Linked DNA regions of Homo sapiens: region 2 is reported to be linked to region 1. Evidence: microRNA targets listed by miRTarBase, many of them from high-throughput screens and not tested one by one. Region 1 holds a microRNA gene; the other region holds the end of a gene's coding sequence.
What was found. The annotated mature microRNA hsa-miR-6511a-5p reads CAGGCAGAAGUGGGGCUGACAGG and lies in region 1 at 1,045-1,067, opposite strand. An mRNA with a match to its seed (bases 2 to 7 or 8) in the 3' UTR can be bound and repressed. Matches are read on the target gene's strand: a 7mer-m8 pairs with bases 2 to 8, a 7mer-A1 pairs with bases 2 to 7 and ends in A, and an 8mer does both.

Region 1 (3,395 bases):
AAAGCAGACGCCGGAGAGGGCCTGGTGGGTGTGGCTGCTGGGAGCGGAACGTCGGGGTGCTGCTTCAGGGTCACTGGGATTTATCTCTGGGGCCCGGGATGAGCCCTCCGCAAAGCTCCAGGCAGGGGAACAGGTCTTGGTCCCCAGCACGCATGCAGCAGATGTGAGGTCCCCTCCCAGGCTGCACTCACCTCGTTCAGCACAGTGACCAGGGCCAGCGAGTACTCGATGACGTGCTGGGGATCGGCCTGCCGCAGCAGCCCCGGGAGCACACTAGCGGTGAGCCCGTGCAGCCAGACTGTGAGCCCCATTGCGCTGCCGTTGGGCTCTGGGAGGGTGATGGCCAGAGACCTACGAGCAGAGGGGGGTGGTGAGCAGGTGGCAGTCTCGGGGGCGCCCTCCCACGGCCTGGCTCACCTGTTGAGGGCGACCACAGCGGCTCCCAGCTGGTCCTGCACCACCACGGCCAGGCCCACCTCGAAGTGTGGCCTGAAACCCGGGGGCAGCACGGCTCCGTAGCCGGAGAGGCTGCCCTTGTAGACACAGAACTCCTCGCAGTGGCCCTGGCGACAGCGCTGCAGCAGCAGGGCGTACACCAGCGGGGCGCCAGCATCCTCCGCGTCATGCCAGCCTGAGGGACGGTCCCCACGGCATCACAGGAGGGCTCCGTGACCTCACAGAGTCGGGGGATCCCGCTGCTCCCCCTACGCAGGCCTGCACTCACCCATGCATTCGAAGTGCACCTTGGTGGTGAGAGCGTGCACAGCGCCCAGTGGGAAGAGGCAGCAAGAGCCCCCCAGCGGCGGGCGGTTGGGGGACAGGGGGATGGAGGCGCAGCCCTCCTCCTCGCCAGAGCGGCCCAGCACCGTCAGCGTGAAGGTGTATCCCTCGCCGTCCCGCAGCACGCCCCGCCGCAGCACCAGTCACATGCCTGCGCTGCCCGTGGATGTGGTGGTCTCATCCAGCACCAGCGTCTTGTTGCTGAACGTACGTGCAGCCCACCGCTGCAGGCAGAAGGGATGGTGAGGGGGCGCAACCCTCTGCCCTGTCAGCCCCACTTCTGCCTGCAGGCCCCGTCCCCTCGGCCATGGGACCCATCCCCAACCCGCCCACACCCCGCTCAACACTCACCCCTCGCTTGGAGCCGCTGCTGCAATTGAGGCAGCGGCCCTCCAGGTACACGTAGGAGCTGCGGCTCACTTCGTACACGGCCTGTGCCTTGCAGGACACACACTCCAAGGACACAATGGGCACCCGGCCACTGCGGATCAGCACCTGGCGTGGGAGTGGGGTTACCTCCAACACAGGTCTATTTGGCCTGCTGGAAGGTCTGGGGGACCCGTGGAGGATGCTGCTCCCAAACTCCAGGTTTCCCAGGGGCCTGGCCACTGCCGGTGAGCTCACCCCCTCCCAGGATACTCATCCGGTTTGCCACCTTCCAACCTGGGCGGCGGAAGGGCATACACAGGGCAGAGGACACTGGGGTGTGCGTTCTGGTGTACTGGACCCAGCTGGACCCTGGCAGGAGGCAGGCAATGCTCACTGAGGGCCCCTGGGGGGATGCGTGTGGGAACAGACGTATGTGTGGGTGTGAGGACCGCAGTTGCCACGTAGGCCTGACTCACAGACTCCTGCAGCCCTTAGCCAGGGCCTGGGTCAGGAGGCTGAGCCGGGATGGAACCTGCTCCCACACCCTCCCCTCAGACGACCCCTCTGGGCAGACCCCCAATCAGGCCAGCTGAGGAAAGCAGGGACTGGGGAACAGACACCCACTCTGGGGTACCAGCAGGCCCCAGTCAGGGAGGCGCACACGCTCACAGAGGGCAGGGAGGCGCACACGCTCACAGGCACCTGCTGCGTCCGGTTCTCGAAGGCATTAGATGCCAGCAAGGTCAGGACGTACTCACCTGTGGGGACAGGCCCAAGTGGGGCAGCCGCGGCACCCCCACCTGCTCCCCACCCGCTCGGCAGAAGCCCCCCGCCTGAGGAGCCCGGGGTGAACGGCTGCACCTGCGGCCCAGCCTTAAGGGTCCCAGGCTCCCAAGCCACGTGCGGGACGGAGCACAGGTGCAGCAGCACTGAGGGCTGCCTGGTGAGGACGGCACCGCCTCCAAGTGCAGCTGCACTCGGGGCAGCAGAGCAGCAAGAGCCAGGCCGCGGTGGGGGGCAGTTCAGGGGGCCCAGCTTCCCTGTCCACTCCTCCCACGCCTGGCCCCTCCCTCACCCCAGTAGGGGCCTAAGCCATCAGCCCAGGTGAGGTCACAGTGAGGGCTGTTGGGGAGGAAGCGGGGCAGCTTGACTGGGGGACTGGGGGGGCCCCGTGCTCAGAGCCTGAAAGGCAGTGGCCCCCTCACCCCCTCATCCCTCACCTGGGGCAGCGTAGGTGTGGGTGACATTGTGCTCCACCAGCACCTGGGCCACCGAGGGGTCTGGAACCGGGAAGGACTCGTTGTACGGAGGCTGGAACTGGTGGAGGGCCTGCTCCCCATCCCCAAAGGTCCACCTGCCGGGGCGGTGGGAGGCAGTGAGTGAACCGGGACAGGGGTGCGCAGTGGCGGGGCACAGGTGCGCGGTGGCGGGGCAGGGGGTGCTTGGGACCCAGCCGAGGCTCCACTCTGCAGTCACGCCCCGGGCCTCCATTCAGGGCCCACCCGGCTGTGCTGAGGCCTCTCCCGGCTCCCGTGCAGCCTCAGGGCTCCTGTGCACCCAGTACCTCCCAACAGACAGGGAAACCGAGGCTCAGAAAAGCAACCCCCTGATGTGGGGTCCCTCGGCTGAGGCTGGAGCCGGGACAAGAGCCTGGTGCCCGGACAAGAGCCTGGTGCCCACCCCAAACCGGCCCCTGAGTCACTCACAGGAAGGCCACCTCCACGGCCGAGTCCACCAGCACGCCCGCCGTCAGTGCCAGCGTGGCATTGGGGGACAGCACGGCTGGCACTGTAGAGACCCGCAGGCCCTGCATCCTGTTCATCCGCTCCACGGTGATGTTGTAGTTCACGGTGACGTTGCTCACGTGGTTGGAGGCCGTCAGCTGCAGGGACAGGCATCAGTGGGCCCAGGTGGCAGGTGAGAGGCCTGCCCTGCTTGGCGTCCCTCCCTCCACTCACCACAGCCATGGCAGCGTCCTCGGGCAGCATGAAGCAGAGCAGAAGGCAGAGGTGAAGGTGGAGCCCGCCCCCGCCCCGCCCCATCCCCTCCCCTCCCCACTCCCGCCCACCTACTGAGAGCTTGAAGACCGCCGCGCTCTGATAAATGACATTGAAGACCACGTTCTGGAAGGTCAGGGACTGCTTGTCGTTGATGGTCCACCGGAAGACCATGTCCGAGCCGGCCTCCACCACGGGGCTGTACCTCTGCGGGGGGACTGGTGTCAGCCTGGGCTCTGTGGAGGACTC
Region 2 (3,000 bases), not on the chromosome of region 1:
ATTAAAAATCTGTTTGGGAATGCTATACTTCTGTTACTGTTCTGAATGCTTGTTTCTAAATGTATAGATGAAAAATTAGTTATTATGTGTGTTGAGAATACTTATGGAATAACATGTGGATGGATGATGATTAAAATTCAGTTGCAAGGTATGGCAAATTAAATGAAAATTTCTCAAGAAATGTAGTTGACAGTTAAAGAGTCTTTATTCAGAGGAAGGAGCCTGTTTTAAATATTTTCTTATTTTTTTCCCTCAGGTTATTGATAAGGAAACTATAGATTTATTGGCGTTCACCTCTGTTGCAGAACTGGAGTTGCTGGGTTTGGAGAAGCTCAAATGTGAACTGATGGCCCTTGGACTGAAATGTGGGGGCACTCTGCAGGAGCGGGCAGCAAGACTCTTCTCTGTCAGAGGACTGGCAAAGGAGCAAATTGACCCGGCTTTATTTGCCAAGCCTTTGAAAGGGAAGAAAAAATGAGTATCATCAGAGCTGATTCCTATTTGTTTATAGTGTCTACCATTTACAACCTGCATAATGTGGACTCTTGACCAGTATTCCTGTTGATATTAAAAGCTAACTTTTTAGTAACCCAATTCTAACTATCCCCTTTTTCCTTGTCAGGGCTGTAGAATTAATGTCTGAAACCATCTGGGCCTTAAATTTTCTTTGTCTGGTTTTCTATAGTGTATTTAATAAATATAGGGCTATTCACATTTTTTGGTTTGATCTTGGTGTCATTTAGGTAATGAATCTATCCAAGAAATCTATCCTTTTGACCCAGGTTATCAAATTTGTAGACATAAGGTTATTTATAATGGTCCCTTCTTACCCTTTTAATGTCTTTAGGAGCTGTGTTGATAATTTCCTTTTCATTATGATACTGGTAATTTCTGTTCTCACTTTCCTAATCAGGTTGGGTAGGGGTTTATCAGTTTTACTGATCTGACTTTTTATTTTATTTTATTTTTTTTGAGACAGTCTTACACTGTCTCCCAGGCTGGAGTGCAGTGGCGCGATCTCGGCTTACTGCAAGCTCTGCCTTCCGGGTTCATGCCATTCTCCTGCCTCAGCCTCCCCAGTAGCTGGGACTACAGGCTCCCACCACCACGCCCGGCTAATTTTTTATATTTTTAGTGGAGACTGGGTTTCACTGTGTTAGCCAGGATGGTCTCGATCTCTTTACCTCGTGGTCCACCCGCCTCAGCCTCCCAGAGTGCTGGGATTACAGGCGTGAGCCACCGTGCCTGGCCGACGATATAACTTTTAAAGAACCAACCTTTGGTTTTATTTTTCTCAATTGTTTATATAATTAATTTCTGTTATTTTCTTTCTTCTATTTAGCTTGAGTCTCCTTTGATCTTTTTTCTTTAGTTCCTTAAGATAAGCCTTAGGTCATTGATCTTAGACGTTATTTAAAATACATATTTAAAGCTATACATTTTCTTTTAAGCATTACTTTAGTTGCGACTTTACAATTTTATTATGTCGTATTTTTATTATTCAGTTCTAATTTTCTTTTTTTTTTCTTTTTGAGATGGAATTTCGCTTTTGTTGCCCAGGCTAGAGTGCAATGGTACGATCTCAGCTCACTGCAACCTCTGCCTCCTGGGTTCAAGCGATTCTCCTGCCTCAGCCTCCTCAGTAGCTGGGATTACAGGCTCCAGCCACCATACCTGGCTGATTTTTGTATTTTTAGTAGAGATGGGGTTTCACCACATTGGCCAGGCTGGTCTCGAACTCCTGACCTCAGGTGATCCACCCACTTTGGCCTCCCAAAGTGCTGGGATTACAGGTGTGAGCCACCATGCCCAGCCTCTGATTATTTTCTAATTTCCTCCCTCAGTTCTTCTTTGACCCATGGATTATCAGAAGTGGGTTGTCTGATCAGCAAACATTTGTTTTTTTTCCTCTTAATATCTTCTTGTTGCTGATTTCTACTTTAATTCCATTGAGGTCAGAAAATATCCTCTTTATGATTTCAATCCTCTTAGTTTTATTGAGACTCGTTTTATGACCCAATATGTTGTCTGTCATGGTGAGTGTACCATACACAGTTTAAAAGAATGCGTATTTTAGGCCAGGTGTGGTGGCTCATGCCTGTAATCCAGCATGAGATTACATGCTGAGATTACAGCTGTAATCTGTAATTTGAGAGGCTGAGGTGGGAGGATCATTTCGAGACCAGCCTGGGCAATGTATAGTGAGACCATGTCTCTAAGAAAAACAATATGTAATTTGAATTGTTGGGTTAATATGTTTTGTAATATCGATGAGATTAAGTGGTTGATAGTATTGTTCAGATCTTCTATGTCTTTACTGATCCTTTTGTTTATTTCTATCAGGTGCTGAGAAAGGATGTTAAAATCTTCAATTATGATTGTGGAATTGTCTATTTCTTAAATTCTACCAGTTTTTGTATGAAGCTCTAATAACTTATGTCTTCCTAATGTATTGACCATTTTATCATTATGAAATTTCCCTCTGTCTCTGGTAATTTGGGTTTGAAATCTACTTTATCTTATGTGAATATAGCCACTGCAGCCTTCTTAAGCTTAGTGTTTGCACAGTATACCTCTTTCTATTAATTTACTTTGTGCTTCTGTGCCTATTTAAAGTAGTTTCTTTAAACAACATATACTTGAGACTTGCATTTTTATCTGTTCTCTCTGTATCTTTTAATAAGTTTAACATTAAATGTAATTATTAATAGGTTTCTAATTTACATGTTTCCTGTTTAGATAAGATTATTTTATAATTGTATTTTAATTTATTGGCTCTTTAGCTATACTGTTTTAATAATTTTTTTAAGTTGGATGTTCTAGTGATTACAATATACATTCTTAATTTTTCAGTCTACCTAGAGTTGATGTGCCACTTCACATAAAATGTAGAAATCTTGTAAGTATGTACATCCATTTATCATACCTGTCTTTTATGCTGTAGTTGTCATACATATTAAATCTACATATTTAAATATTGTAAGTCCTGTCATAAGTTAC

Region 2: the mRNA of SDE2 is a reported target of hsa-miR-6511a-5p. Seed matches in the 3' UTR shown: 7mer-m8 at 1,036-1,042 and 7mer-m8 at 1,599-1,605.

The regions. Positions count from the first base shown.
Region 1 is chr16:16,322,264-16,325,658 of GRCh38, reverse strand. It overlaps MIR6511A2 (microRNA 6511a-2), which reads right to left and starts at 1,071; the gene lies at 1,005-1,071. It also overlaps the pseudogene LOC131696449 and the pseudogene PKD1P1. RefSeq lists enhancers at 682-1,484, 1,554-2,409.
Region 2 is chr1:225,982,780-225,985,779 of GRCh38, reverse strand. SDE2 (spliceosome associated SDE2) reads left to right here. Exons shown (of 7, transcript NM_152608.4): 7 at 257-3,000. The coding sequence ends at 478. Among named protein-coding and RNA genes, the nearest start is that of SDE2, 15 kb to the left of the region's middle.